2 separate regions of the Homo sapiens genome follow, and region 2 is linked to region 1. The links come from fine-mapping of genetic effects on gene expression. Tissue or cell type: monocytes. Region 1 holds a variant in brackets; the other region holds the start of a gene. All regions are shown on one strand. Distances are from middle to middle. Region 1 overlaps SH3BP4 (SH3 domain binding protein 4). Region 2 holds the start of SH3BP4 (SH3 domain binding protein 4).

Evidence for each region. PIP is the estimated chance that this variant, and not a neighbour inherited with it, causes the effect.
Region 2: SH3BP4 starts here. The variant in region 1 is fine-mapped to the expression of SH3BP4 in monocytes (Quach 2016, PIP 0.95). The same link has a PIP of 0.9 or more in monocytes after LPS and monocytes after Pam3CSK4.

What each region holds. Positions count from the first base shown.
Region 1 is chr2:234,988,515-235,004,119 of GRCh38, forward strand. It overlaps SH3BP4 (SH3 domain binding protein 4), which reads left to right. Exons shown (of 6, transcript NM_014521.3): 2 at 6,789-6,862. Among named protein-coding and RNA genes, the nearest start is that of SH3BP4, 44 kb to the left of the region's middle. RefSeq lists enhancers at 2,731-3,502, 10,265-10,894, 11,010-11,686, 14,140-14,978 and silencers at 7,951-8,245, 8,871-9,165. The variant A/G (reference allele first, on the strand shown) is at 6,415.
Region 2 is chr2:234,943,666-234,959,270 of GRCh38, forward strand. It overlaps SH3BP4 (SH3 domain binding protein 4), which reads left to right and starts at 8,352. Exons shown (of 6, transcript NM_014521.3): 1 at 8,352-8,505. It overlaps LOC105373938 (a long non-coding RNA gene), which reads left to right. Exons shown (of 7, transcript XR_007088132.1): 2 at 1,978-2,037; 3 at 5,199-5,458; 4 at 5,921-6,120; 5 at 6,202-6,270; 6 at 6,933-7,686; 7 at 7,774-8,134. RefSeq lists an enhancer at 8,805-9,454.

The sequences.
Region 1 (15,605 bases):
AGGGGAGCAGAGCCCAAAGGGGAATGAGAAAGTAGTCTTCCGGCCACACAGGTGTAGTGGGCCCTGTGTCTCATTGTCCTCCCGTCTTCACACTCAAAGGCAGGGGGCCTCCGCCTCCTCCACCGCCCTGCCAGGGAGGGAGGGCGTTCAGAGAAGGCAGCCACTCGGTGCTGCGCGGGTGCCAGGAGGAGCTCACGGTGTGTAGGGGGGACGCATGAACAGGTGAACAAAGCCGTTGCGGGTGCTGGGTGGGTGGTTGTCTCAACGCCCCTCCTCCATTTTTATGCTTAGTATTCATTCTAGGTTTAACACAGGAGAGAGGAAGGTTATATCCCATTCCGTATCACATTCTCTGTAAAATTGGAAATTTTATGTAATTACAGGAAGGGTAAGTGAAGCAGTTCTGTGTTCTGCATAAGAAAATGTAACATCCATCAGGTGAGATTTCAGGCCCTCTCACTTGGCTGCTTCATCCATCTGTTGCCCAAATACGTTGTCAGTGTGTAAGTTTTAATAGTGTTGATTTTGATAGCATGAAGTAGAAAGGCTTTTGTCCATCTATCAGAGTGTCGCTTTCTCAGTTCTGTAAATTGGTTGTCTCGGAGTGGAATGATCTGCCCTCATAGAGAATGAAAAACCTGGGGTTGGGTCCATGGCCAGGCCATGAAGTCTCTGTGTAGTCTTGGACGTGCCGTGCATGAGGACTGATTGTGCGAACCCGAAGCTGTAGGAGGATGGCGTCACTGTGCTGCCAGAGCGGGGCCAGAGATGCCTCCCCTCTTTTTGAGGTTGGAGCCAGCTCTAGAAAGAAACCTTGAAATGGATGTTGGGCCCGTTCCCGTCTCCCTTTCTGACCACACCTACGTCTGCTTTTCTTTCCTTCCCTCTTGCCATCTCCTACCCTAGCTGGTCTCTTGGCAAACACTCCTGGCATGCAGCCATGTACCCGGGTGAATGCCCACTTCCGTTTGGCCTGAGCCTACATCCCGCCTGGCCCTTTGCCCACTGCGTAAGTAGGAAGGGTAGAGAACAGGGCTTGGCACACTTTTCTCTGTAAAAAGCCAGAGAGTAACTATTTTCCACCTTGTGGGCCATAAGGTCTGTGTCACAGCTCCACTGTTTTGGTTGCACAGAAGAGCTATTGATAAACTGGTGGGGCTGGGCTCTGTGCAACTTAGGTAAGGACACTGCGACTTAAATTTCTTATCATTTTCACGTCGTGAAATATTACTCTTTTTATTTTCCCCCCAACTGTTTAAAAATAGAAAGACGTTCTTTGTTCATGGGCCATACAAAGATAGGTGGCCAGGTTGGATTTGGCCCGCGGGCTGTAGTTTGCCTCTGGGTTGGACAAGAATTTTCAGGGTGAACACCCCTCATCCAAAAATTTGAAATCCAAAATGCTGCAAACTCTGAAACTTTTTCAGCACCAACGTGATGCCACAAGTGGAAAATTTCTCACCTAATCTCACATGACAGGTTGCAGTCAAAACTCCAGAACAAAATTATGTAAAATGTTGTATAAAATCACCTTTGGACTATGTGTATAAGGTACGGATGAAACATAAATGAATTTAGTGTTTAGACTGGGGTCCCATCTGCAAGATATCTCATTGTGTATGTGCAGATGTTCCAAAATCTGAAATCCAAAGCACTTCTCGTCCCAGGGATTTTGGATAAATGGTACTCAGCGTGTATTTAGTTCTACTTTGTAGTTTGGTTCTACTGACTGGCTCTGATGTATGGTGGTGGGTGAGGCTGGAGCGACCCCAGTCATCCAGCTGTCGGGGATGCAGGCTGTAGAGGCTCTTCTGGCCGATGGCTCCATTGATGTCCACTGTGGAGGCTTAAAAAATCTAAGAAATAGGCTTACACGTTTTCCAGTTTACTCAACACCAGCCTAACATTGCTTCACCTCAACCCTTCAAGAATGTGTCCCATAACTAAGTGGGTTGGACTTTTGGGCCCATACCTGAAGTTGTTGGAACAAAATTAGTTTTGTGTGTTCCTGCATATTCCCTGGGAACTCATGCGGGTCTGGCCCTGAAAGACTCAGCTCTGCAGCGTGGACCAGCTCTTGGTGTGGTCAGCACAGGCCAGCCTGTAGGTTGAGTTGGGTGAAGAGTTCACGGAGCATTTTCAGATCTGTCACTCCCTCAGCAACCTCTGAGATGGGCAGAGCCGTGAGAATTACTTTGACGGGGCTGTTGTCAATGAACCACAAACTGCTGGGTGGTTTGCACAGTGGAAAAGGATTGTCTTACAGGTCAGGAGGCTGGAAGTCCAAGATGAGTGTCAGCAGGGCTGGTTCCTTCTGAGGCTGAGGGAGAATCAGTTCCAGCCCTTTCTCCCTTAGCATCTGGGGGTTTGCAGGTAGCTGTTGGCTTGTAGAAGCCTCACCCCCCATCTTAGTCATCCTGTCACCTGTCCCTCTCTGTGTGCATGTCTGTTGAAACTCCCCCCTTTTATAAAGTCACTGGGTCATATTGGACTGGGGCCCACCCTGGTAATCTCACTTTAGCTTGATTGCACCTTGAACACTCTGTCTCCAAATAAGGTCACTTTCTGAGGTACTGGTGATGCATACAAATTTGGGGGGATGCAATTCCATCTATACCATTGGGAAATGGGGTGAATAGCTGTCTTGGTGACTGTCCTGGAATGAGGATTTAGGACACAGTGGTCATCTCTGTGTGTGAATATAGCTTCCTGTTTGGATGTGGTAGGGTGAGGACCATGAGCCTCATATCATTTATCCACTCACCCTCCCAGACCCTCTGAGGTGGGATCAACTCTCTGCAGATTTGTCATCAGCTGAGACTGTCAACCATTGTTAAAACAGCTACTCAGATGGACAGAGTGACATAACTGCCCTTCTCTCTGCACCGTGGGAGAAGACACTTGTGTTTTGAGCTGCTGAAGACAACAGAATCTTGTCTTCTTGGCATTGTGGTTTTTGGAGATTTGCCCCAAATCATGGTTAATGACAACACTGATGTTTCTTGAAACAACTGGAGAATAAGGCATCCTCTAGACTTTCTGCTAATTCCATCCACCCACGCTAAACCGTGTGGTTTTCTTGGGGCCCCTGAAGACTGACGGGTCCACACTGGTGTCTGGTGGTGCCCACAGGAGAACAGTGCTTGACTGAAAGATCGTACCCCCCTCTTCTCAGCAAGGCGGTCCTTGTCCAGAGGCCTTGGGCCTCTGGAGAGGTTGATCAGGAGTTGGGGAAGTGGAAAGGGGCCAGCGGTCTTGTCCACTGAATCCATCCACTGGGACCTCCCGGACATGACAAGCCAGATTCTCTCCTCCCTCCACTCCAGCACTGAGGGGCTAGTGGTGCCACATGTGCACCTGTCCCTGCCCAGGGTCCAGTTCTGGCGTCTCTGAGCCCCCTGTCAGGGCAGCTGGGTCCCCCCATACTTAGGCATGAGGTATGAGTTTACCCAATCATCCCCCTGTCCAGGGAGCCTGCCGGGCTCAGCTTCAGGACCACAAGGCTGTTAAGTAAAGACGCTGCCTAAAGAACCTGCCAGAAGGAAAGCTCCAGAGGGCTTGCAGGGCCCTTATCCAAAAATGTGAAAATAATCAGTGCTGAAAGCCACAGTGACGGAGGGTGTTGTCAGCGCAGCCTCTCTTTAAATAGAGAAAGGAGCACAGCAGCTTTTTGGAGTTGGGGCGAGGTGGCATCTGGAGTTTCCAGCGAAGATTTATTTTGTGCCTTGGGGGGCAGGAGCTGGGCAGCCTGGGGAGGGCTGGGCAGCAGCGAGGATGGCGAGGCTGAGGCCCTGGACCACATGCAGGTCGTTTTCTTCGGGGTGGCTGGAGGGCGGCTCTCCAGGCAGCTCCATGGCCTCAGTAGCCCCCATGACCAAGTGGAGTGAAGTGAGCTGGGGGAGGAGTGTCACAAGGAGGAAGGCATTGTGGGCCCCTGGAGATGGATGCGTTCCTGCCATGTAGCTCTGGGTCTGGAGCCCCTGGAGATGGATGCATTCCTGCTGTGTGGCTCTAGGTCTGGAGCCCCTGGAGATGGACACGTTCCTGCTGCGTGTCTCTGGGTCTGGGCAGCACCTGGAGATGGACGCATTCCTGCCGTGTGGCTCTGGGTCTGGAGCCCCTGGAGATGGACGCATTCCTGCTGCGTGGCTCTGGGTCTGGAGACCCTGGAGATGGACGCATTCCTGCTGCGTGGCTCTGGGTCTGGGCAGCACCTGGAGATGGATGCATTCCTGCCATGTGGCTCTGGGTCTGGGCAGCACCTGGAGATGGACACATTCCTGCCGTGTGGCTCTGCATCAGGAGCCCCTAGAGATGGACACGTTCCTGCCGTGTGGCTCTGGGTCTGGGCAGCACCAGGAGATGGACGCGTTCCTGCCACGTGGCTCTGGGTCTGGAGCCCCTGGAGATGGACACATTCCTGCCATGTGGCTCTGGGTCTGGGCAGCACCTGGAGATGGATGTGTTCCTGCCATGTGGGCTCTGGGTCTGGGCAGCACCTGGCAGGCTTTGGAGTAGGCCTTGCCCACAGCCTGGGAGGCTGGGGAGTTCCTGTGAAGGGAGCTGGGTCCTTCTGGGGAGCGCCCGGTGGGGCTTGTTGTCCCTGCCTTGGGCTTGTCTCAGGAAGTGCCCCCGGCAGAGTGAGGAGGCTGAGATGAGCCCCGGGGGTCGGTTTCTCGAAGCCCCCGTCAGAGCTGATGTTCGGGCCACACGTTCTCTTGGGGTGATCCGTTCTGTGTCACTGGACTCGCCCCCCGCCTCATTTCCTCACTGGCCCAGTAGTAACTGCAGCCACTGGAGGCGGATACCCACTGAGGCTGTTCCCATCTGTCCTTTATGACGGCTTGCGATGGACCCGCCTGATGAAGGGGCCCAGCAGTGCCGGTGCCTGCCTAGAATTCAGGATGGAGATTCTGAGAACCCTGACCACGGCATAGGGGCTTGGGGTACAAAGGAAAGAAGAGGCACTAGGTTCTCAGAGATGCTGGTGCAGTGGCTTTTAGAATCAGAAAGAAAAAATGGGAAATGCACGCTCACGGTAGAGGAAATGGGAGAAGTTGCGGAAGTCTGAAAAAGGCAGGGACATATACCATGAAGCCAGCCTCATTCGTAGTTTCACTTCCCCCAGGTTTTTTTCAGTGCCCTTTTATGTCTTTTAAGATGATGAGATTTTCAACTGTTCTGTCTTGACATGACTCTTTGGAGAACGAGTACTTTGAGAGACATTCTGAAGAGCTCTGAGCAACATGGTAGACCCATTTCAAAGGAGAGGGATGGACGGATGGCGGCGTCCTGCCTTCTCTGCCGAGAATGGGGCCGCCTTGTGATTCCTGTCCAGAAAATCAGCTTGGGTGCAGGTGGCTGTGTTGGAGCTGTGGTGGCACCTGCAGTCCCGCCTGTCTCTTCCCACCCTTTGTTTTTGTCTTCTCTGGTTTCAGATCTTTTGTGTTTGTGCATATATTTTGTCACATTGTTGCGGCCTTTTTCGTAGCGTTCATTGATTCTTTTCATTTTGCCTGTGTGATTTTGCACATCGCTTGTACCCTTAGAAGGTCCGTGTCTACGTAGAGATCAACTATACAACCAGATTTTCTATTACCTATTGGGCGGTTTCCTTTCCTCCCTCCCTCTTCCCCTCCACACCCTTCTATTGATCTGGAATTCATTTTGTCTTTGGGTGTGAGTTGAAGCCCTGAGAGGGGGGATCTGTGCTCTGAACACCAGCCAGTTGTCCTAGCATCACAGGGAATGATTCTTTCCTTCTTGGGTGATTGTGACGCTCCTTTTAATTGCATGTTAAATATTTACATGGATGGAGGTCTGTTCTGGGCTGTCTGGTTCCTGCAGAGGATGAGTGGCCATGATTGAGGGAAGGTGTCCAGAAGGAAGTTCCCACTCCTTCTTTCACAGTCTGATGAGGTCCTGGATTCCTCTGAAGGCCCCGGGGCCCACTCTGTTATTCCTGTGGAGGAAGTCAGCCTGAGGGGGAGGGCGTCGTGGTGGCACCTGCAGTTCCGTCTGTCGCATTGATGTTGGCTGGTTCTGCTCTCAAAGGCGCCGGCTCTGTAGTGATGTCAGCGCCGTGTGACTTGAGGAGGAGACCCCACTGCTGCGGTGTGTCTGGGGTTCATCTTCAGGGCGCAGCTGATAAGATGCTTCTGTTGCGCTCACAATGCCAGTCATTGCAGCAGAAGTAATGGCAGGTGATGGGAGACTCATTGTTGGGGTGAGAAAAGGCACAATAAGCTATTGTCACAGGCAGGGCTCCCTGTGAAGCGGAACGTGATGCAGAGGCCACTGGGCAGGACGTTTAGGTTTGCTGGGGAGCACAGCAGCAGGGGAAGAGGACAGTGAGGCTGGGATGCAGCCTCCATGCAGCCTGTCGCTTTCTCCACAGGAGCTCTGGCCTGGGCC[A/G]GACTGCCGAGTCACCCTGATTCAGGAGTAGGGTGAGGGGCAGGCTTTGTTACCCCGCGCTAGTCACTGGCCTGGTCATTGGGTGCAGGCTGGCCCAGGAAGGGGGCTGATGTGGCCTCAAAAGGGCTCTTTCCAGTGAGACAGTTCTGGGTGGCCCCCGGTGAAGGTCCTTCCGCTGGCCACTCTCCAGAGTTGGCTTCAGAAGGGGACCTGGGGGCCGCGTGGCAGCGTCCACCACCATCCTCACCTGCTGTGGAAATGCACTGCAGAGCCCGTCTGTCCTCCAGGATGTGAAGGGGCCCTGGCGGGAAGCAGGCCTGAGTTCTGCGCTGGACAGGACTGAAGCTCACTCGTGTTTCCTTCTTGTCTTGCAGCGTCTCCCTTCTCTCCTGGACAGAAGGCCGTGTCCTGGGACTTCTCTGATGGCGAGAGGCTGCGGCTGTACCAGGTAGGCAGTGCAGGCATGGTGTGAGTGGGTTGCCATACCTGGACCCGCTTTACCATGTCATGACCAAGGTGCCGGACTCATGGGGACACAGGCCCCAAACGTGTGCAGAGCAGCTGCAGGAGGGAGAATGCTTCTGGAAGCTTCTGGTGACACTTGACCTTTCTCAGGCACTGCAGGCCTGTCCCTCATGGCGCTCTCCTCCTGTCCTCGAAGCCCACAGTGTTGTCCCCAGTGTGGGAAGGTCATTTGTCATCCTGGCATCCAGAAGCCCGGCCCCGGCGCATTCCCAGAACAGCCCCGTGTTTCTCTTTTCAGCGAATCCACTTTCTGTTGCCACCCGTGGAACGTTCTCACTCTTCCAAGAAGCCAGGCTAGCAGCTCCCCCACCCCAGCAGCCGCGGGACAGAGCCCAGGTTGGGTGGTGTGTACACAAAGGAGGGATTGTTCTCACGTCGCCCTGCGACGAGATGGGGATGGACCCGCGGTTAGAGGTCACCCTCCCTGGGGCGTCAGGGGAGCATTTGTCCTTGAAACACGCTGGCAAAAAATGTTCCAAGGAAGCCTCAGCTGGTGTTTGTGAGGAAGAGCTGGATTAAATGGTGTTCTGGTAAAATGTTCCTGGAGGTTTTCTTGGCTGTTCTTGGCTTTTATACTCCTGGTTGGCAATAGAAGGAACACCCTCCTTTGTAAAGTCGGTTGGATAGGATCACCTACCTCATAGGGCGGGCACAGCCTCCAGTTTTTTAGAAAAGCAACATACAAGTCTTTCCCCACCAAGTAGAAAGGATTGGATCTAAGTAAACGCTACGTTTGGATGCTCAAGGCCAAAGGGGGAGTTGAGAAGCCGCAGCTCACAGTGGGATTCCTTTCTGGGCCACGTTGGAATTTTAAAAGCCCTTCTAAATAAAGCAGGCAGCTACTTGCACTGTTTCAGGTTTTTCTTTAAATCCTGTAAACTGAGGGTAGCTGATTGGATTTTATTTCAACTTCTCCCCCCACCCTTTCTGTCCTGTCTCTTTGTTTTCCAGTATCTGCCTGTGCCTTAGGATGGAGAGAAGGTTTGAGATGTTCAGGAGGAGGCTCAGGGCTTTTCATAGTGACGTGAGGAATTCAGGAGTTCTCTGGTCCCAGGGTCAGTCCTCCGCCCACTGGGGCCTCAGCGACTTGAAACACTTCAGCCCAGGCAGAGGCCACCAGCAGGCCTTTCCTTATAAGTGCAGCCCCTGGCCCTGGAGGCTGTGGTCTCTTTGGGCTGCGGTGAACCCTCCTGAAAGGCATCCACATTCCTGGCATTCTTTCTGCCTGGCATTGGTCAGAAAGCGGGGGTTTCTAAAATCAAAGGCGAGCACTGCAGCTTGGTTCTTGTCTGTAGATAAACTGGAGAGACACCAGGGGGTTGTGCGGCATGGTTCTCTTTGGGCCCCCACATGGACTGGCCTCGCTGGACTTTGCATTTGGGGCATCGCCAGAGCAGGCCCCATCCTGAGCAAAGCAGGAGGAGGTTAATGGGGGTCCCTCTCGGGCTCCAGCAGTTCCTTGGGCGGCACGCATGTGGTTTGCTTTTTCTGACCCTGTGCCAGAGTTACTGGGGCAGCAAGACATCTGGGAAGAGGAACGGGAGGGTGGGACGGGTGCCGCCATCCCACAGCGGTGCCCGCTTGTCTCCGTGGCGGGCACACAGGCTTCCGGGAGCCCGGTGAGGGAGGTGCACCCAGACTTGCCCTGGATACAGCGGGCAGAGCGTTGCATGTGCCTCTGGGTGGGGTGTAGGGGTGCTTGGGGGCGTGGGTCCCCACAGCAGTTAGAGACCATCCACAGGCCACCACACTTTAAGCTGATTTTCGTTTTGCCTTGTTTTCCCAGAGGCATACATGTAGTGTTTTCTTGGTGCCTCTGAATAGTCACAGTCTGATTTGCCTGGGGGTCAGTGAGAGACACGGCTACCCAGGGTTTCCATTTCCAGGCCCCGAGTTTTGTCCGTGGCAAATTTCGTGATTTGCACATAGTTCCCACCTCATGGGTTCAAGTTGTTAACCTGATCCTGCTCCCACTGTCATCACCATCAGAGGTAGTTTATCCTGGTGCCTGGTGTCCTTCAGGATGAAGGAGGCAGCAGAAATGCTCCCTGACTCAGTTCCTGAGACCAGAATGACTGAGGAAACAGGAGGCCTGCAGCAGAGCACGGCCGATTGCTCCTCCGGGGAGTGTCAGCTAGGGGACGGAGCCGGTGCGGAGATCGAGGCCCCACAAGGCCTGCCCCTGTGGTTGTTCCCACTGTCCCACTGATGGCTGGGAAGGGTGAGCTCCAGCCCCCGGTGGCTTGAACACCCTCTGTAGTTGTGTCTGCTCAAGGCCTGGGAACACCCTGCCTGTTTCACAGATGAGAAACTCATCTCAGAGTACTCAGAAACCCAGAATACTTCATTCAAGTTCAAGTTCAGAGGGTGATTAAGAAGAATCAGAAGACTGGGTGCGGTGGCTCATGCCTGTAATCCCAGCACTTTGGGAGGCCGAGGTGGGCGGATCACGAGATCAGGAGATCAAGACCATCCTGTCTAACACGGTGAAACCCTGTCTCTACTAAAAATACAAAAAAATTAGCCGGGCGTGGTGGTGGGCGCCTATAGTCCCAGCTACTTGGGAGGCTGAGGCAGGAGAATCACCTGAACCCAGGAGGCGGAGATTGCAGTGAGCTGAGATTGCACCACTGCACTCCAGCCTGGGCGACAGAGCGAGACTCCATCTCCAAAAAAAAATAAAAAATAAAAAAGTCTCGGAGCCCAGCCTGCAGACCGGCTGCATTTGTGTGTCCCCTAAACCACTCCTCTGTTCCTTTAGCTTAGCTGGGTGCCTGGGGGGGCACGTGAACCACGTGGGCTGGTACCACACCCCCTCTAGACTGGCCAATGGGAATAAATCATGAGCCACAAACAGGAGACGTAAAAATGAACAGGTAAACATAATTTTTTTTCTTGGGATTGTAAATTCACACGACAGTTGAAGGTGCAGTGAAGAAATGGGTGGTAGCGGAGTCACCCACTCTTCGCAGGGCGACTGGCCACGCAGGCTCTGCCTGCACACCTCCTGCCTGGACCATGTGGAAAGTCTTCAGGGGTCACGTCAGACTGAGGTTCTCCAAAGTTCCTATCCCTTTGTGTGTTTGGTGAGCTTTTTGTTTGTTGGTTTTGGTTTCGAGGTGAAAGTCACATAACCTCCAGCTGACCGCTGCAGTGGGCATTGAGTACATTCTTGGTCCTGTGTCACCACCGCCTCTCTCTCGTTTCAAAACTTCGTCATCACCCTGGAAGAGCACCCTGTACTCACTACATGACCACACCCGTTGCCCCTGCCCCCGCCTCTGGCTACCACTAATTGGTTTACTTTTGAGGTTTGCATTGGGCTATGTCCCCATGGCCTTCGATCTGTGACAGAGATCCTGGCTTTCATACATCCTTGGGACAGAGAAACTAAGGCCAGCGTCCTTAATAGCATGACCAGGTCTGCTTGGACTGTCCTTTGAGGTGTCCTGCAGGCACTGATTCTGCACCTGCCAAGGCCTGACCTCCCCGTAATCAGCAGATAATCCAATAGAGGAGAAGGGCACTTGAGGCCATGCAGCGGCTGAACGGGAAGCTGTGCTCAGCGTCTCTCCAAGCCTCTGCATTCCAGTGACAACGTCCGCAGGGCCTCAGTGAATAAACCGCTGCAAATGCACGTTGGTGAGGCCATCAGCTGCCGAAGGGAAGCTGGGGAATCTGGACGGAGGAGAAAGAAACGTGAGCTGCACTCCCGGCGACACATTGGACTAAGAACGGCGCCTGCCTTCTTGAGAGGCTTGTTTTGTGGTGTCATAACTAGCCTGCCTTACACCTTTCTTAAAGCAAGCATGTTGTGAGTTCACAGGAGGGATTTTTAACATACTTGAGGCTTTGGGGACAAAAGACATCAGTCAAAGAAAGATTCCGCTATTATTTATTTCAAGAGCCTTTGAATCTCTTGCTGAAATCTGCTCCCATTTTGAAGAAGCTTCCCATCAAATCAGAAAAGCCCTGATTTTCCTGTCTCTGTGTTTGGAATTGTCCCCCACCCTGTTGTTAGTTCATTCCTTAAAGTTGTCTGGGCAGACTGCAATTTCGGAAGGGCACCTGGATGCGTTTCATTCTTGGGTCAGAAAAATACCTATGCAAAGAGCTTCTGACCAAGCATAGACAGATTTCAATTATTGGCACAATAGCATGTTACATAAATCAATTTCCTTGGGCCTCAGTTTTCTCCTTGGTAAAGATGGAACCTGGGTCTCTGAAGGTTCTCAAAGACTAAAAAGGAATCTAAGACACCCTCAGACTTGCTCAAGAAGAAAACAGGGCAGGATTATTGGAATGATCCAGAAAGAGAGCACAGTGAATCTTCTCAAACTTTGAGAAATGAATTGGTCATCAAAAATTAGACTTTCCTCTCACCTGTGCAGCTGGCTCTGTCACGCGGCCTCTGCTGCTCACCACCAGCACATACCTGGCCCAGGAGTGGCTGCCAGTCAATGCGCAGCAGCCCTTTGCAGGACCTGCCCTTGGGCTGCTTTTGAGTTTCTGAGCATCCAAGTCTCAGAAGCAGCTGGTTGGGCCAGCTCAAGCTCTGGGTCCGCTGTGGATTGATTCACCTGTACCTGGTCTCCACCACTGATCCATCTGGAGAGGGGTGAGGCCACAGGGGTTTCCAGGCTGGGGGTGTGCCTGGGCCAGGCAGCGACAGCCACTGGGAACCCCAGGCAATAGGGGAAGTGGCACTCACTTATCCTCGGCTGGGCTTCTCTGCAGGCTCCCTCCCTCCTTCCCTTCTTCCTTCCTTTCGGAACTCCCTACAACCCTATCACGTTAAGCAAGTCCTGTAGCCTCTCTGGGCCTCACTTCTCCTACCTGCTTATGGAGGGCCCCCGAGCCTGGGCTGTGTGGCTTCACTGTTAACATGTTATTGATGTGACTGGGGGGTTGCCCCTGTGCCTGACGTTTCATTCATGCCGTTCTCCCATGCAGGTTGCTCTCCTGATCTGGGCCCCGCCCTTTGGTTCCAGGGGATATGAAGGTCAGAGGAGGGATTAGCATGATCCACTGGCCAGAGTCAATAACACGGGGCCCCTCCTTCCAAGAGGGGCTTAGCCAGAAGGGGAAGCCTGGATCTTGGGCTCGGGCTCTGATGCTTTGTCTCTGAGCCGCTGACATGGAGGACGTCAAGCCGCGATGTTCATGTCCCCATTGCGTAGAGGTGGGTCCTGTAGTCCCACATGTGGTGTGCTCTGAATCTCCTTTCCACTCTGTTGGAGGGTCAGAGGGACTTGAAAGATCACAGAGCCCAGCCTCGCATTTGGCAGAAGAGAAAGCAGAGACATAAAGGCCAGGGACTTGTGCCGGGTCCTACCCGCTATCTGGTGCCCCACACACTGGGGCCTGTCCCCACTGCCAGCAGCCTCTGTGTGGGTTCTGCCTTTTTCTGCACTGGTGGTGTCTCCCCATCGCCCCAGCTGCTTGTGGGCAGGCGTCACCTTGTTCTGACCTCTTTCCTTCCCCCAGGCAGCTCTGGACTTTGCTCTCAGTAAACACAACTTGATTCTTTTCCTTCTTACCTTATCATTGCCCATAAATCCCGTTTACACGGTGCCCACTTTTGTGTCTGAGCTGGGACGTACAACCTCGTCTCTGCCTCCAGTTTTTGAGAAATTAATTATAAACAGTGTTGACAGAGGCTCTGGCTTGACTTGGGGCATCTGCTGCTCTTCCCGGCCTTGGTCTTCTGAAGGTAGCTGTTATCAGTAACAGAACAGATGTGTTTATCCTGGGCTCCCGGGCCCTTGGCGTGGCCCTTTGAGGGGGTCTGTGAAACCCCTGAAACTGCATGCTAAACTTTACGGGTGGAGGTAGTTTTCTAAAGAGAGGGTCCAGAGACTTTGTCAGATTCCTTAGAGGATTTGCACCCTCAAAAAACGTTAACAACCTCTGAGCTGGAGGAAGGCCTAAGACAAGCCTATCGCACTTGGAGATAAGATAAGCCGAGGCGGGACCTAATGGGGCCTCAATGTCTTGGCCAGAGTGCACAGCTGAAACGGAGATGACACTTGACAGAAACCAGTGTAAAACTCTCCTTCCCTTTATTTAGCTTTTATTTCTTGTGCTTTTCATTAAGTACAGATACTCTTTGCTTGCTTACAGAACAGGGAAGACCTGGCTTCTGAAAATTATCTTTAGGTTTTTCATTGAATTTGGTCTTATTCTGAACAATGCCTGAACGTCGAAGGTGCTCCCCTAGATAGGTTAATAGAAACCCACAGTCCAGGGCAAGAGGCCGCATCCGGGAAGCCTGTGTACAGGTGACTGGAGAGATGAGTTCTCACGGACCGTTCGGGCAACTTGGTGTTCCGGCCTGGACATTTCAGTGCTGCATTTGAAGAGGAATTATGAATTGGCTCTCAAAGGAGGGTGAGGTGTTTTGTTTTTTGTTTTTTATTTTTTTTGACATGGAGTCTTACTCTGTTGTCCAGGCTGGAGTGCGGTGGCGCAATCTCACCTCACTGCAACCTCCGCCTCCCGGGTTCAAGTGATTCTCCTGCCTCAGACTCCAGAGTAGCTGGGATTACAGGTGTGCGCCACCACACCTGGCTAATTTTTGTATTTTTAGCAGAGACAGCGTTTCACCACGTTGGCCAGGCTGATCTCAAACTCCTGACCTCAGGCGACCCGCCCGCCTCGGCCTCCCCAGAGTGCTGGGATTACAGGTGTGAGCCACCATGCTGGGCTGGAGGGTACATTTTTAAACGATGCAATTCTGGGGCCATCGTCAGATTTGGCGAAGAGGAAGCTGCGGGAGAGAACTGTTACTATACAGGATTTGAAGAACTCTCCTGCAGGCTTATTTTATATTTAAATTGTGCACAGTGGTTTATAGTTTGCCAAGCTGTCTTGGGTTTGTTATGTTGCGTAATCTTCTGAAGGACAGGTGGGTTGAGCCAAATATTCATTAGCAGCCTCGTTTTACAGATGAGGAAACTTGTGCCTCAGAGAAGCTGAAGTCATCAAACCAAGGTCAAGCTGGATGCGGTGGCTCATGACTGTAATCCAAGGGAGGCTGAAGCGGGCGGATCACTTGAGTCCAGGAGTTCAAGTCCAGCCTGGGCAACATAGCAAAACCTGGTCTCTATAAAAAATACAAAAAATTAGCCAGTCGTGCTGGTGACACTTGTATCCCCAACTACTCAGGAGGCTGAGGTGGGAGGATTGATTGAGCCCAGCAGGTCAAGGCTGCAGTGAGCTGTGATCACGCCACTGCACTGCAGCCTGCATGACAGAGCGAGACCCTGTCTCAAAAACAAAACAAGTAAAACAAAAAGGGTCAGGCATTTGGCAGGGATGGACCCCAGTAGAATCTTCTGATCCCAGTGCCGTGACATAGGGTCCCCAGAGCAGATGGGCTGGGTTCAGATAACGGAAGGCCACACAAGATTCTAGAATTGTCAGCAGAGGGAGGAGTTGCCTGACAGCAGCAGATTCCAGGGAGGGCCCGGATGAACCTCCAACAGGAATGCTGATTCCGTTCTGCCTTTGATCTCCTGATTTCAAAAGAACTTGAAGTAACTTGAACCTGGCTGCCATCTGCCCAGGCATAGATGTGTGCCAGGAGGCAGGTCTGCCTCTTAGTTGCTATGAAATAGTTTGCCCAACTTGGATGCTACGTTTCTTTAGAAAATCTTCAAGCTATCACACGTGAATAGGCTTCTGATCGAATAAGCCCAGGGCTTCGGTGGATGGGGCATGGCTGGCAGCAGGGCCAGCGTGGCCCTGTCCTTTTGGTCCTCTGTGGCAGGGACCCAGGAAGCAGTACCCAAGGGCTGGAACCAGCGTGACCGAGGAGAACTCTCCCCTGGCCAGGGCCTAGCTCTCAAACACCAGATTCTGGGGTGGACTTAGATCCTACAAACGCAGGCCACTGAGGCCAGGGTACCAATGTATTCATTTGACAGGAAAAAAGGGGATACTTTGGAGGTGCAGATAATGCATCCTCACTGTACAGGTCGGGGCATGAGAGCAGAATGAGGGTCATTCGAAGGATAGAGTGTCTGTTTACTGTTTTATCTGCTGAGAAGCAGATTCCCATTTTGCCAGCACCTGTGTGTAGCCTGGACTCTGGAACTAAACTCTCTGGTCTGAGGGGTGGAGGGGGTCAAATCTTGGTGAGGAACAGTTGCATGGCTCTGCTCACTGACCTCTGTTGGGCCTTAGTTTGCTCATCTGTAAAACGGGAGTGAGAAGTTGCAGTTATGGGCGTGTGACACCTTCCCAGTCACGCTCCTATGCAGGGAGATGTGGCTCTGGCATACAGAAGCTGAACTCACAGTGATGGTGACAGAGGCTGGAGGCTGGGGGGCTTGCAGTGTCTGTATCCAGTTGGCTCCAGGGATGGCCCCACCCCTGTCCTCACCTCGGTGTGATTTTAGGGGCCACAGTCTGTTCCTGTTTTTTCTTAGCTGGTTTGAGTTGGGTTTTGAGAGTCCTAAAACCCACCCAAGATGGCCCTAGGTACCTGCCCTCTGTGGGGTACATTGCTCCAGTGGGACTGCAGGCTTTGGGGCTCCCCGTTAGCACCCCAACTGCTCCCGGCTCCTGGCTGTCACTCGGTGAAGTTTGCCACGGCTTCCCCTGTTGGTGGCGTTTTTCCTGTGCCTGACTGACTAGGTACCCTCCTAACTCCTAACTAAACA
Region 2 (15,605 bases), 45 kb before region 1:
TTTATTCTTAAGTTGTTTTTGTTTTTGAAGCCATTGTAAATGAGATTGCTCTTTTAATTTGTTTTTTGGAAAGTCTGCAGTGTCAACAAATCAATGGAAACTACTGATTTTTATGTGTTGCTTTTGTAATCCTCAACTTTACGTATTAATTTCTAAGTCCTAACAGTTTTTTGGTGAAATCTTTAAGGTTTCCTCTGTATGGGATAACAGACAGCAACAATTTCACTTCTTCCTTTCCCATTTGGATGCTTTTTATTTCTTTCTCTTGCCTAATTGCAAGGACTTCCAACATGATGTTAAATAGAAGTGGTGAGAGTAGGTTTCCTTGTCTTGTTCTGAATTTTAGAGGAAAGGGTTTCAGTTTTTCACCATTGAGTACAAGGCTAACTGTGTGCTTACCATATATATATGTTCTTTATTGTGTTGAGGTACATTCCTTCTATACCTAATTTGTTGAGAGTTTTTATCATGAAAGGATGTCAAGTTTTGTCAAATGCTTTTTCTGTGTCTGATGAGATGATCACAGGGTTTTTGTCCCTCATTCTGTTAATGTGGTGTATTGCATTTGTAGATTTACATTTGTTGAACCATCCTCCTATCCTGTGATAAATCCCACTTAATCATGGTGAATGATCCTTTTAATGTGTTGCTGAATTCAGCTTGCTAGTATTTTTTTGAGGATTTTTGTATCTATGTTCAACAGGGATCCTGGCCTGTAGTTTTACTTACCTATTTATGTATTGATTTATTTTTTGTAGTGTCTTTTTCTGGTTTTGGTGTCAGAGTAATGCTGGCCTCATAAAAAGAGTTTGAAGTATTTCCTCCTCTTTAATTTTTGGAAGAGTTTGTGAAAGATTGGTATTAGTTATTCTTTAAATGTTTGGTAAAATTCAGCAGTGAAACCATGAGGTTTCTTAGGATCCTTTATATTTCTGTAGTATCACGTTGTATTATTTCCTCTTGTATTTCTGACTTTATTTATTTGTCCTCTCGTTTTTTCTTAGTTTAGCTAAAGGTCTGTCAGTTTTGTTTATCTTTTCTTTTTCTTTCTTTATTTTTTTTTTTATTTTTTGAGACAGAGTCGTGCTCTGTCACCCAAGCTGGAGAGCAGTGATGAGATCTTGGCTCACTGCAACCTCCACCTCCTAGGTTCAAGCAATTCTCATGCCTCAGCCTCCCGAGTATCTGGGACTACAGGTACACGCCACCACACCTGGCTAATTTTTGTATTTTCAGTAGAGACAGGGTTTTACTATGTTGGCCAGGCTGGTCTCGAACTCCTGGCCTCAAGTGATTCACCTCCCCTTGGCCTCCTTAAGTGCTAAGATTATAGGCATAAGCCACCATACCTGGCCATTTATCTTTTCAAAAAACCAACTCTTGGTTTTATTAATCTTTTGTATTTTTTTTTTAGTCTCTTTCATTTATTTCTCCTCTGATCTTTATTATTTTTTTCCTTCTACTAACAATGGGCTTAGTTTATTCTTCTTTCTGTATTTCCTTGAGGCATGATGTTAAGTTGTTTGAGATCTTTCTCCTTTTTTGATGTAAATGGAAAACACCAATTTAAATCCCTATTTAAATCCAATTGATATCCATGTTGACATGACTAGTAGTTACTGATTTTTTTTTATTTATTTATTTATTTATTTATTTATTTTTGACAGGGTCTTGCTCTGTTGCCCAGCCTGGAGTGTAGTGGTGCCGTCTCGGCTCACTGCAACCTCCGCCTCCAGGATTCAAGCAATTCTCCTGCCTCAGTCTCCCGAGTAGCTGGGATTACAGGCGCTCGCCACCACACCCATCTAATTTTTGCATTTTTTAGTAGAGACAGGGTTTCGCCATGTTGGCTAGGTCTGTCTCAAGCTCCTGACCTCATGTGATCCGCCCGCCTCGGCCTCCCAGAATGCTGGGATTACAGGCATGAGCCACCGCGCCCATCCCTGATTTTTTTTTTTTTTTTTTTTTTTTTTTAAGAAATAAAGCAACTTCTCCCAGGCCATGTGGAAAAGCCATGTGTGAACCAGAGGAACAAGTGTGAGTAAATCTCAGCCCTCTGGGCAGAATGTTCTGCTGTTCGTGCTATTTCTTAATCACAAGACTGGCTGTGGATTGCAAACCTGTCACCTCTTTTTTACATTCCCAAACTCACCAAAATGCCTTTGTTAAATTTTCATAGTTTGACATTGAAATATTAACGTGCAGACAACTGGCCTTGTACAGTTTTGATTCTATGCTTTGCAGGACTTTCTGGGATTTGAGGTAACCTGCATGTCTGGCCTGGTGTTCCTTGGCCTCGCAGAAATATCCCACTCTCCTTGCCAGACACAGAAAGCCCTTTGCTCCTTCCCTGGAACTTCCTCAAACCTCCAAACTTTGCACTTGCAGATTCTGCCTGGGATGTCTGTCCCCTAGTTCTGTTTCTCTTTTTTTTTTTCTGAGACGGAGTCTCGCTCTGTCGCCCAGGCTGGAGTACAGTGGTGCGATCTTGGTTCACTGCAACCTCTGCCTCCCCAGTTCAAGCAATTCTCCTGCCTCAGCCTCCCAAGTAGCTGGGATTACAGGCACACGCCACCACAGCCAGCTAATTTTTGTATTTTTAGTAGAGACAGGGCTTCACCATGTTGGCCAGGCTGGTCCCAAACTCCTGACCTCAAGTGATCTGCCCGCTCGGCCTCCCAAAGTGCTGGGATTACAGGCGTGAGCCACGGCGCCCGGCCCCCCAGCTCTGTTTCTAAGCCTACTAACAAATCGTATTCACCCTTCATCATCCATCCCTGAGGATACCCATGCCCACCTACATCCAGGATGGGTCCAGGTGGCCTTCCTCTGTGTACCCTGACACTTATCCAACTATCGTTCTATAGACTAACTATATAGAATGATAGCAACTGTGTACTCCTTAAGTAGAAGAATCTAGAACATACCTATCTTCCTATCCTCAGCTCCTAGCACACTGCCTGACACACAGTAAGCATTCCACACATATTTGTTGAATGGATAAGTGAGTAAATGAGCAAGGTAATGAATATTTGTTTAGAAGTATTTCTGGAAGTTTCCTTAAAGCCACAGAACTCTTTTCAGCAGATCATTTTGTCTCTGCATCCCTTCTGGATTCTGTATGCTCCTGGGATGCCTGGGTTATGTCCCACTGCATATGAATTTTTTTTTTCTTGAGACAGATTCTTGCTCTGTCGCCCAGGTTGGAGTGCAGTGGTTCGATCTCGGGTCACTGCAACCTCCGCCTCCTAGGTTCAAGCGATTCTTCTGCCTCAGCCTCCTGAGTAGCTATAACTACAGGCATGTGATACCACACCTGCTATTTTTTTTTTTTTTTTTTTAAGTAGAGATGAGGTTTCACTATGTTGGCCAGACTGGTCTCAAACTCCTGACCTCAGATGATCCACCCACATTGGCCTCCCAAAGTGCTGGGATTACAGGCGTGAGCCGCAGTGCCCAGGCCCAGTGCATATACATTTATTAAGGACAGTCAGCCATGTGGTGGGGCTCCCTGTCACAGCTTTTTAGAACTGGAAGGATAGAGGCTTCTCAGAATGGCAAACAGATCACCCAACATTTTCTGGCAAAACCGAAGTCTTGCTCTCTCTTATAGCTAGTGTCTCACTGAATTCTTGGCAAAGTAACGTTCTCCAAGCTGCTGGGGAAGTTACAGAGGATGGGCAGCATCTAGATGCCCCATGAGCCCCCATTTCCCAACACGGTCCCCTTGGAATCTCTCTCTTTCCCTCTTTCCATTCACTTCATTCTTTTCTCTCCAGCCTCACTGGTGTCATTTCAGTTCCCTGAGGGTGTGAAGCGCTTTCAAGCCTCAGGGTCTTTGCACATGCTGTTCCCTCTGCCCAGCACGCCCCTCTCCACTCCTTTCCCTTCGGGTCCAATGTCACCTCCCCTAGGGCCTTCTCCAGCCCTCCCACATAAAGCAGGTCTCACCTCATCCTAGTTCACAGCCCACTGTGCTTTCTTTTAGGATGCTTATCACCACCTGTAGGCTTTGTGGTTCCCCTTCTGCCTGGGTCCACTCTGGAATCTCAGCTGCCTCTGTCTCACCAGGGCTCTCACTCCCTGGGGCCACGCTCGGGGCTGGCATGCAGCAGATGTCCAATAAGTATTTCTTGAACAAATGAATGTCATTCTGTAGGCTTGTGAATCATGTAAGCAGCATTTTCTCCCTCAACTTAAATCCACTGTATTAGGCTGTTCTTGTGTTGCTATAAAGGAATACCTGAGACTGGGTAATTTATACAGAAAAGAGATATATTTGGCTCACAGTTCTGTGGGCTGTACAAGCATGGCTCTGGCATCTGCTCAGTTTCTGATGAGGCCTCAGGGAGCTTTTACTTATGGTGGAAAGCGAAGTGGGAGCAAGAGAAAGAGGGGGAGGTGCCACATACTTTCAAAGGCCAGATCTCCCCAGTACTCAGTCACTATTGGGGGGACAGCACCAAGCCATGAGGGGTCTGTCACCATGACCCAGACACCTCCCACCAGGTCCCACCTCCAACATTGGGAGTCATATTTCAACATGAGATTTTGAAGGAACAAATATCCAAATTTTATCACCAACAGAGGGTATGTATCTAGGCTTGCATTTTGATAACAGGTCCTCTCTCTGCATTCTGAGTCAGAGGCAACTAATTTAAAAATCCATTCACCCACATTGACGATTAAATTTCTACTCTTACAGATTCCATTTGAAAAATATCCTATGCCTTGTGCTCTTCTTTGCCCTTTAGCTGTGTTTTGTACATTTGTATTCTATTTTCCCTGTGACATGGGCATTTTGATCATTAATGATTTCACTTCACCAGAAGAACATTATTCTTTTTATTTCATTGCTGAGAATGTTTTTGTCCATAGAGAGATATTTTCATTATGGGCCACATGCAATTTCTGAGTAGTTATTTCCTAATATGAAGTGTATTTTATAGGTGGTCAGAATGTTATAACATATTAGAGAGCTTATGTAGAGTTTGGGATAGTGTATATTACTTGGGAGTTATTCTTGCCCGGGCTGCTTTTTCTGGGAGTGTTGTATCTATTCTGAGAAGTCCTTGGAATGAATTGGTGGTGCTTGGTGTGATTGAACTGTTGCTGGTGTTAGTAACAGATGCAGCACATTGACTGTCAAACCTACCCCAATCTTTCCCTGCTCATCTGTGTGCATCTTACTTTCCTAGACAACAGAGCCGCTGAGTACACCCCAACACAGAGGAGCCAGCGCTCACCGAGAGATTTGCCAAGTGGAGTCCTTTTGAGACATCCAAATTTCACTGTCTTCAACTTATTAATGTGAAACAAAGAATAACGTATATGTGTGTGTAAACACGAATAGTAACAGCTTATATTTGTAAACAATGTGCCGTGCGCCCAGCACTACATTAAGCAGTCTCCATGCAGCACCTCCATTAATCCTGGGGAGCACTGTACCCACTTCAAGGTGAGAACACTGGTACTGAGTGGCCCTGCTTTATGTCACCCAGCAGGTGAGTGGTGGGTCTGGCATTCAAAGCTGGGCAGCCTGATTTTAGAACCTACCACACTGTCTTTATACATAGATGCATGTCCACGTATATATACCCACACACATCACGCACATATGTATCATCTACACATGCACGCACCCAACGCGTGCAAACGCTTGGGGAAAACCTCTGGTAGAGTATAATTCACTGTGAACTATGGAATCTGGGAAAGGGTAGGAACTTAGGATCGATGCTTACTTTTTACTCTACACATTTCTCTAATCATTTTAATCCTTTGAAACAAATGTGTTATCTCTGTACTAAAAAAAAATAAAAACCCAAGTTATTGATTTTGCTGTATGTGTTCCCACTGGAAAGGCTTATTGAATAATTGAATGTTATGAATGAATAGCTCATTTTTTTTTCTTTTGATCCAGAGGCCTTTAGAAGAGCAAGTAACAAAAACTGGTGGAAAAAAAGCACACATTCAACAGGAAGCAACATCTAGAGACCTTTCTGCCTTCCAGGATACAAAAAGAAAACAGTTCATAAACAACTTACATCTAAACCAGTAATGTTGTCTCCCTGGCTCATAGGAGCTGAAGAAGAATTCCAGTTACTGTAGTAAGAATATAAGGTAATGTGTTCTTGTTTTTTTTTTCTTTTTTTTTTTAACCACTTTGTTTAAACATTCTGACCTCTGTTAATTCCTCTCTAGGATGTGGACTGGTTTGAGGATGCTTGAGGCATGACTATAGCAAGTACTGCGCATACATATGTGGACATCGTAAGACACACTCTCTGCTTCCCCAGGCGAAATCTGTAATGCTTTGTTTATTCATGTTCTATTCTGCGTTTCCATGGCACTTTGTTCTTTGTGGTTTTTAGGGTATCTTTCTCCCTCTCTGCTCAGTGAACTGAGCTGCCTGGACAGGCCTTGAGTTTTCTTATTCGATTGTTTTTTGTGTGTGTATGTTTTGCCTTAGCTCCCTCACTAGTATAGTCAAGGAGCTTTTCATGCTTTGAGCCATTTGTGGCATTTCAGGAATTACCTTCATAGCTTTTGTCCATTTTCTACTGGCTTGTCTTTTTCAATGTTTTTATAGGCATTTTTTAAAAAACACAGTGTGGATGTCATTTGGGATAGCAGTACTAATAGTAGCTAAAACTTACTGAAAGCTACTGTGTGCCAGGCAGTCTGCTGAGCACTTTACATGCTGCCTTTCATTTTTACACTCATTTAGGAAACTGAGTCACAGAGAGGCGAGATAACTTGCCAGAGATTCAAGCACACTCCAGACACATCCCTACACCAATCAGACCTCCTAGCCACCCAGAAACTCTCCTCTGCTCGGAGGCTTCTCTGCTTCCTCCACCTGCCCCTTCGCCTCACTGCCTCCTTTCAAAATCTGCGGCATGTATTTTAGGGATACTCGTATCCATTTTCAGGAATTCCATGATCTACACACAGATGACACCAAAATCGGAACAGCAATGTCCACCCTTCTCCCGAGCCCTAGGTCGGTGCCTCTGTCCACCTGTGTCTCCTGAAACTTCAACACAGACTTCAAATGGAGTGGCAGAAAACCAGATTCCTTAGGGAAAGGAAGGTCTCCCAGACGGCAGGAGCGGCAGGCCTTAGGGGCAGCCGCAGGGGCTCGGGAGTCTGAACATACCCGGTTTGAATTCAGACTCTGGCACGCCCCATGCGATCATAACATAGTGCTGCACGTCTCAAGCCACCTATAAAAACGGGGACAATAACAATATCTGCCTCGGGGTTAATGGTGAGGACTGACTGTGTGTGTCTCGCTCAGGACCAGGAGCAACAAATGTTGGCTTCTTCCCCGGCAAAGACCCGCGCTTTCTCCTGGGCTCCGGGTTCCCGGGGTGGGGGTGGGCGCAGTCCCGAGGGCCCCAGGCAGTGGCGCAGTGGTTAGACCCCAGCCTCTGGAGTCGGCCTCGGTTCAGATTCTGGTTCTACCCTTCTCCTCTGTGGCGAACCAACCCTCCGAGCTCTAGTTTACTCGTGTGAAATGGACTAGCCAAAATTGGGATTTTTTTTTTTTTTTAGGATTAGATGTGTCGGTCCATAGACGTTGCTGGCCACATAGTTAAGTGGTGCGTTCACTCACTGGGCATTGATGGAGCGCCTACTACGTGCCAGGCCTGTTTTACGCGCCGGGGGCCCAGAGGCGCCCAGGTCAGACAAAGTGTAAACGATTCCGACCAGAGCCCTTCAATCTGCATTCCGCTTCGCAGGAAACTCTCCTCCTTTTATGATTTTCAGCCGGACTGCCTTCCCTGTTGTTAGTTTGTAACTTTCGCTCCGGCCCCCGCAGCCTCGCGCCTGCCTTCCCTCCACTGTCCTCAGCCAAGGTGTAGTAAAGCGTCTCCGAACGCGGCGCGACCCTCGCCCACGCCCGCTCGCGGGGGGACCGCACCGCCCCAGGGGTCCTCGCTAGGGGTTCCCGGAGAAGGGGTGGGAGATGGGGGTGCGGGGGGGCACAGGAGCGCGGGCCAGCACCCAGACCTGCTCGGTACCGGGGACCCAGACCCGAGGATGCCGGGCGGCCAAGGCCCCGCTACCCTGGCCGGCTCCGGGCGGAGGAAGAAGAGGAGGCGCCCAGACTGGATACCCGCCTGGACCCGGAGCCGCGGCACCACCCCCAGCCCGCCCCACGCTCGCCAGCCTCAGACGGCCGCGCCCCGCCCCGCCCCTCTCCCGAAGCCCCGCCCCGGCGCGGGACCACCCCCTCCGCGGCCTCAGCTCCGGTCCTGGCCCCGCCCCCCGCGCCCCCGCCCCCGCCCCCGCCCCCGCCCCCGCCCAGGCGCGGGACCACCCTCCGCCCGCCGAGGCGGGGGCCCAGCGCGCCCGGCACTCTCGGCGGTCCGGGCCCCTCGCCACTACCGCCGCCGCCGCCGCCGTGAGTCCCGCGGAGCCGCGCGCGCCCCCGGCTGGGCCGAGCCGCTGGCCGACGAGCGGAGCCTCAGGAGCCGGCGGGGACGCCATGCGAGCCAGGTAGGCAGGCGGCGGCGGGGAGCGCCTCGGGCGGCAGGGCCCTGGGGGCCGGCGGGGGCGCGGGGTCGTGCTCGGGGGCTTTGCACTCCCTTGCGGGCGCAGATCGTGCCGCGGGCGCCGATCGTGCCACCGCCGCCTGAGTTCGGGGCTGCGCGGGTGCCTGGGCGTGGGGCGGCTTCGGGGAAGCCTCGCGCGCCCCTCGCCGCTCCCCCGGGCGCTCGGGTCTCCCTGGTGCTGGTGGGCAGGGACCCGGCCCGGGGTTCCGGGCGCCGAGCCGCAGCCCTCCGCGTGCGCTCGGGCCGCCCCCCAACCCCGGCTCTGGCCACTTCCCGGCGGGCGGCCCTGCGGGGTGGCCTCCCTGGGCAACCGGACGCGTCCTCGGGCGCAAATCGGGGGGCGCGCTCGGCTCACGGGGGCCGTGGGGGCCACGGGAGGGCGTGGAGGGGTCGGGGCGCCCCCCTCGAGCGGCGCTGGGGAGGAGGGAAGGACGCGCGGTCTCCGGTTAAACTTGTTGGTGACAATGCATATTTCAACTTCTTCGGAGATCCCTCCTGTGAGGATGAAATTGAAAACTCCGGTTTCTGGCTTGGCGATCGGGTGACCGAGCAGCCGCGAGGTGACAGCGCCGGCGGCCCGCGGGCGGGGACCGGCTGGGATAGAGGCGCGTTGTTCTCTGAGCGATGTTTACCGAGAAGCCCGCTCCGCGGCACGGGCGGGTGTCAGTTGGGACCCCAACCCTGGGTCCCGCGGCTCCTAGCCCGGGGCCTGCGGTGTAGACGGGGGTTGGGGACAGGCCCAGCTGGCCCTGACCGGGTGTCGGGCGCCCAGAGATGCCGCGCGGGAGGAGCCGCGGGAGAGCCGCCGGACTCAGCGAGCAGAGGGTCGTGGAGCCTGATGGATCGATGAGATCTGAAAAAGAACACTGTGCGAGATTGTATTCCTGCTTATTCTTTCCAAGTTAGTAGGCAGATTGGAACTATAGAATTTATCCGTGATAATAATAAAGTTCGCATAACTTTTGTTCTGATTACAGAAACAATGTATGCTCAGGACAGAAAGCTAGAGATAAAGAGAAATATAAACAGCAAACAGGAAACCATCCCCAATCCCACATTTTTTACCAGCCTTGTCACAGCCTGGCAGATTTGAACATTAAGTTAGAACTGGAGCCATTCTTGCCTAAACCAGAGAATCCCTGAATGCAGCCGCCCCTTCTCACCCTTGTGACCGTCTCTGAGCTCCAAAGTTTGGGTTTTTTCCTTGCTCCCTACCCGGGCAGAATCTCTGCTGGCCACGAGTCCCCTTCCCAGTGGGCTGGGGGCTTTCCTTGAGATCCGTGGCCCAGATGAAATGATGGGAGAGGCCTGGATCCTCACCGCCCTCTGTGGTTTTGGTTCCTTGCCTTGTAAAAATGAAGGTAATGATTCTCAATCTGCTTCTCAAGCCACCATAAAAATTAATGGGTGGTTTGCAGAGCGTTTTGACATCCGTGGATGGACAGCGGCTGTACTTTAAGGCGCTGGGGAACATTCTACTGTTCCTCATTGCAGTGGTCATGCAGTGTAATAGGCTGCCTCTCACCTGGCCGTCCTGCCCAGGAAACAGACTCCAGGAATGTCCAGTGGAGCCCTGAGGACAATATTCCTGGTTCCTTGCTCAGTGCCCTCGGGACTCGGCCAAATCCCTCAGAGTGGGAAGCTTGGGAAGAGGCAGCGCTCTCCAATCCCCCTCCTCCACCTCTGCTTTCTGCTTGTAGGCGGATTTCTTAAAGTAAGGGGGCAGTGATATTTAGGCGGGACCCCAGATTGCCCACTGCCTGATGTTTGTGGGTCTGTGGAATGCCCGGGCCGTGCTTATCCAAAAGAACAGTTAGTTCTGGGAGGACGCATAAACTGAACAAACCTGGCTTCCTAGAGATTTGTATGGCTCACTTGTTTACTAAATGAACAATGACCGGCTGCGGAGAAGCCCAGGACACTTCTGTGAGCTTTATTATTATTTTTTTCCTGTTGTCCCAAGACTACATTTTAGTGATCTTATAAAACAATAAATAAGAACCCATGCCATTTGTTAATTCTGGGTACCAAAGGCCCAGGTGGGGAGAGGTACTTCACAGCATGCCTTTTGTCCCCAAGCACCCATGCCACCCCCACAACAACAAAGTAATCAGGGTAGAAGATCCTCTTTCTGTAACCGTCTGTCGTTTGATAGTTTCATTTTTTAAATTGTCCTTTCCACCAGCACGTGGATCTGATCAGGGTCTGTCTAGTTGCAGATCACAGCTCAAGAGGGGGTTTTGGAAAGACCCAGAAAGTGGGCTGAAAAAAATGCTGATAAAGTATCCTTCACCGGGTGCCTTGTCTGTTCATGTATTGTGCTCTTACTTTTCTCTGTGGAGGGAGGACCTTCCTGGCTTTTCTCCCTTGCTCTTGTTTGCTAATCCGGCAGCCTGGAATTATTTCCCTCTGGGCTGCTTGAATAGACTTTCTTCTTATTCTAATGCTGGATTCTAGTCTGATCATAAGATATGCGAATGGTGAATGTGGTTTACGCCCTTGAATCCTGGGAGGTGTTCCTGGTTTTAAATCCTGGGATCCTGGCCAGTTAAGAGCCCCTGGCTCCCCTGAAATTGCGTGGGAGGTGTGTGTGCTTTCTTTTCCTGGGGAGCTTCTTACAGAGCCCTTGACCCAAACAAGGTTGAGAGCTCCAGAGTGCGGCCCTGGCAGACCTCGTCCCTGGACCCTGGCTCCAGGCAGACCTCCCAGTTCCAGCCTCGTTTCAGGTACCAGCCTTGTTTTGACCGAGTAGGAGCTGCTGTTTACAACTGGCCAGCCATGTGGATTTCCCTTAGCTTTATTATTTTCAAATTGCACACCTAAATTGGGCTGTGTTGTGATTTTTCTTCTGCAAATTGGACTCAGGCCCCTGGGACATTTCCCAAGGCCCTGGAGGTGGGCATCAGGTCTTCTCTGTTGCGAGGTAGCCGCCTGACAACCAGGAATCCGAAAAGGTCACCGATCACTAAATAGAGTTCTCAGAGCACTCTCAGTGCGCGGGTCAGCTTTGCTCCTGGCCAGGAGCGAGCCTCAGGCCAAGCAACGTTTACACTCAGCTTCTGGGGAGCTGGGCTAGGTCTCTGGGCTCCCCAGCTATTTGCACGAAAGAAGCCTCACATTCTGCCACCACCCTGTGGAGCAGTGACAGAAAAACAATTCATCTAGCCCCCAAATACCCAGGGAACAATCCAGCTACTTGATTCAGTATCCTCCAGGAAGCCGAAACCAGCTCCTCGGTGGGCCCTGAGGGCGTCCACGTGTTACATAACCCAGCACCTGATCCCACCGTGACCTCGCTAAAGGGAAAAAGTCTCAATAATCAGTCTTCAGAGGGCGAGGGAGTGCAGAATATGCTTTAGAAAGAGGCTGTGTGCCGTGTTTTAAGAAGGGTAAAATCCCATGTAGAACATCACAGCCTCCCATCTTCCAGGTGAACAGTGCCTCCTGAAGTCATCAGGAAGCATATGGATTTGAGGAAGTAGAATTGCTGTATGGAATTCCTCTAATTTAAGGTTTGGGGTATTTTGAGGGATGGAAATAGGTACCACTCGTTGAGGGCTTACCATATGCTAGGCTGCATGTGTGCCCTTTTGAATCCTCACGAAAACTACCAGGGGTTTCATTTTACAGGGAAGCTACGAGAATTTAAGAAACTCCTCCAACCTTAGACTTTAATGAGTGCTTGAGTTGGGATTTGAACCTGGATCTGTCCAAGTCCAGAGCTCGTCATCACATCTCCCGGGGTGCTGAAATTAAAGAAACAAACGGCTCTCAGTCACACATTGGAGCCTGAAGATACAGGCATGCAAATAGCGGAGTGCCAGCCTCCCTCACACAATTAGAAAATAGCTTGTACTCTGAAGGTGATGAAATCTTTAAAACATGTGACGCTTTCTCAGCCTAAATGGAAGGCAGCCATTTTGCACCTTTGTTCGTGAAACCCTCACCCCGTCACCAGGGCGAAGCAAGGTTTATTTGGAAGATTGTGACTTTGAAGTTGGGATAACCCAGGATTTGGTACGATGTCTTTCCTTGTCCCGTGAAAAGAGGGTGTTTGGGCACATGGGGTCACTAGAATGAGATTAAGATTATAGGAAGGCGGTTAAGTAAATGTACAATAAGGGTTCCACCTTCCTCTTTACAATCAAATAAATGACATACTAATGAGATTATTCTTATCTGCGCAATAAAAGCTTATCTCAGGGGAGCTCTCTTTGCTGAAGCCTGTTAGCCCAACTCTTCTGTAGAGATTGAGAAGAATACTTCCTTTGAAAGGATTTTATGGTTCCAAGTTTTTATTAAATCTGCATAACTGAGGACAACCCTGCCTCTTTTTTTTTTTTTTTTGAGTTGAGATTTCTCTGTTGCCCAGGCTGGAGTGCAGTGGCTCAATCATAGCTCACTGCAGCCTTCAACTCCTGGGCTCAAGCAATCCTTCTTCCTCAGCCTCCTGAGTAGCTGGAACTACAGGTGCACACCAGCACGCCCGGGTAGTTTTTTTTTTTAAATTCTTGTAGAAATGGGGTTTCGCTATGTTGTCCAGGCTGGTCTTGAACTCCTGGTTTCAAGTGATCCTCCAGCCTTGGTCTCCCAAAGCACTGGGCTTACAGGTGTGAGGTATGTTGCCCTGCCCTTGCCCCATTTTTATGAGCAGGCAGGAAGCTTTTCTAGCCCCTCCAATGTAGGAGGTCCCTGAGCTCATAGTGTGCCGGTAAACCTGCTCTCTGAGGAGAAAGCAGAGCTTCGATTGCAGTATCTGCCAATTTCTGTGACGTAAATATTCCCACCATGGCTAATTTCTTTTTCTTTTTTTTGAGTCTCACTCTGTCACCCAGGCTGGCTGGAGTGCAGTGGTGCAATCTCGGCTCACTGCAACCTCCACCTCCCAGATTCAAGCTGTTCTCCTACCTCAGCCTCCTGAGTAGCTGGGACAACAGGCATGTGCCACCACGCCCAGAAGTTTTTGTATTTTTAGTAGAGACCGGCTTCCCCATGTTGGCTAGGCTGGTCTTGAACTCCTGACCTCAGGTGAACGGCCCAGCTTGGCCTCCCAAAGTGCTGGGATTACAGATGCAAGCCACCATGCCCAGCCTGATTTCAAACTGCCAGTTTGGGCTGGGAACATTACTAAATAGTTAACAATCTGTGTGAGCCAAGAAGAGCTGGGTCCTGCTCACCATTCATTGCACTGAGCCCACCCACACGACACCCCTGCTTCCCCTTCCGTCACCCCCATCACTTTAATGGAAGAAATTGTGGCCTCACTTCTGCTTGGTCCATGTCTGCCTAGGAGCAGTACTGAAAAAGGATTTGGGTACTACTGAGTAACCGAATTTGGCCAGCAAGAGTAGAAGGCTTCAAAACTCAGGCTGCATTTTAAAATCACCCGGGAGCTTAAAAAAACAACAATCCATGTTCCAGGCCCATCCCCAGTTGAATCAGAATGTCTGGGTGTGGGTCCAGACCTCTGTAGATTTGGAAAGCTTCCCGGGTGACTGTAATGTATATCCACGTTGAACACCAGGGATGTGGTGATGAATTTGTTCAAGAAGAAAGCTGAGGGGGTGCAGTTTGGGGCAGGGCGTGGCAGACCCTGTGTATTTGAGCCCAAGGAGGTGAGATCTCCCTTGCAGAGCAGGGAATGTTTTTCCTTAAGGCCTCGTAGAGGGTGAGGAAGTGCTGGGCTAGGAGAGGCAGGCGGAGCCCATCTTCCCCCCAACAGGTCTGTCCTCCTCCAGGGGCACGTGTCCTACACTGATGAGGTCCACATACTTGTTTGGCTTTGGTTGCTTCTGCTGGTCTAGAAAGGAAAAGAGTCTTCCTTCCAGGAAGTCAGGGGGTCAGGATGAAGCCAGGCAGACCCCCTGGGTGGGTGTGATGAGCTGTTCTCAGATATTAAAGCAGAGGGGCTTACTGGGACCACCCAGATGAAGGAAAGAGAAACCCTACCGCCCAAGGACCATAGCTGAACACTTTGTAAGAGTCCTTGAGCTTGGGTGCGCACATAAGCTGATTATTTTTTCTCCATCATAATTACCAGTAAAATTATTTTAAAATGTGAGAGCTTTCCTTGGAGGCAGTAAGCATGTGGGAGGGAAAAGTCATTCAACTTCAGAGCCAGCCATGGTGAGCGGGGCTGGGACTGGGGAGAGGCACACGAGGCCCCTGGGGTGCAGGATTCAAGGAGGTGCTCGCCCTGGGGGGGTGTCTGGGGAAGGGTCTGTCCTGCTGGCCAGAGGAGGGCTGTTTGAGAGAGGGCGGTCCTGGGCTCACTTCCTTAGAGTTGGGCAGTGAGTGTGGAAGAGCTCATACATGGGAACCTAGAGTGAAGAGCAGGGGCCAGGATCACACTGCTGGATCACCCCCAGAAGGGGCAGGAAGGCTAAGGGGGAGCCAGTGGAGGAGCAGCTGGGATGGGAGAACAAGTGCCCTGCGGGGCCCTGAAGTCAAGGAGGAGAAAGATGGGGGTAGGGGGAGAGGGGGTTGAGAGCTCAAAGCAGACGGGACAGTTCTGAGTCTATCATGTGCGGAGGATTTATGAACGGGAGGACTGGAACCCTGTCACTGTGGTAGTGGAGAAACTCCTATAATAGAAGAAATAGCACAGAGTGGAGGCCACGCAGAAGAATGTTGGTGATAAAAGAAATTGGACCGTATTTGATGGTGTGGAGACAGGGCAGGAGGGAGCCAGGGTTGGGTCAGAGGGACTGGGATTCTAGCAGGGGCGGAAAATTCTCCTTGGGGTACCCGTGCGGTGGGGAGTGGCCGCAGATGCTGAGAGGGAAGCATTGGGTGTGAATAGCTGATCACCAGGAGCAGCTGGTTAAAAGACCTTCCCCAAATGCTTTCTCAGATCATAACATCTGCAACTTTTTCCCACTAGCCTTTGTGGAGGGCTGGCTGGGGGGCCCATTTGTCCTTAAGACTCAATTCAGCAGACTCACTTGCTCTTCCAGGCCCAGTTCACACTGCCTTCTCAGACACACCCGAGGAACCTGCACCTGGGTCTGCCTGTGTCCTAGCTTTCTTACCTGTCTGTTGTCC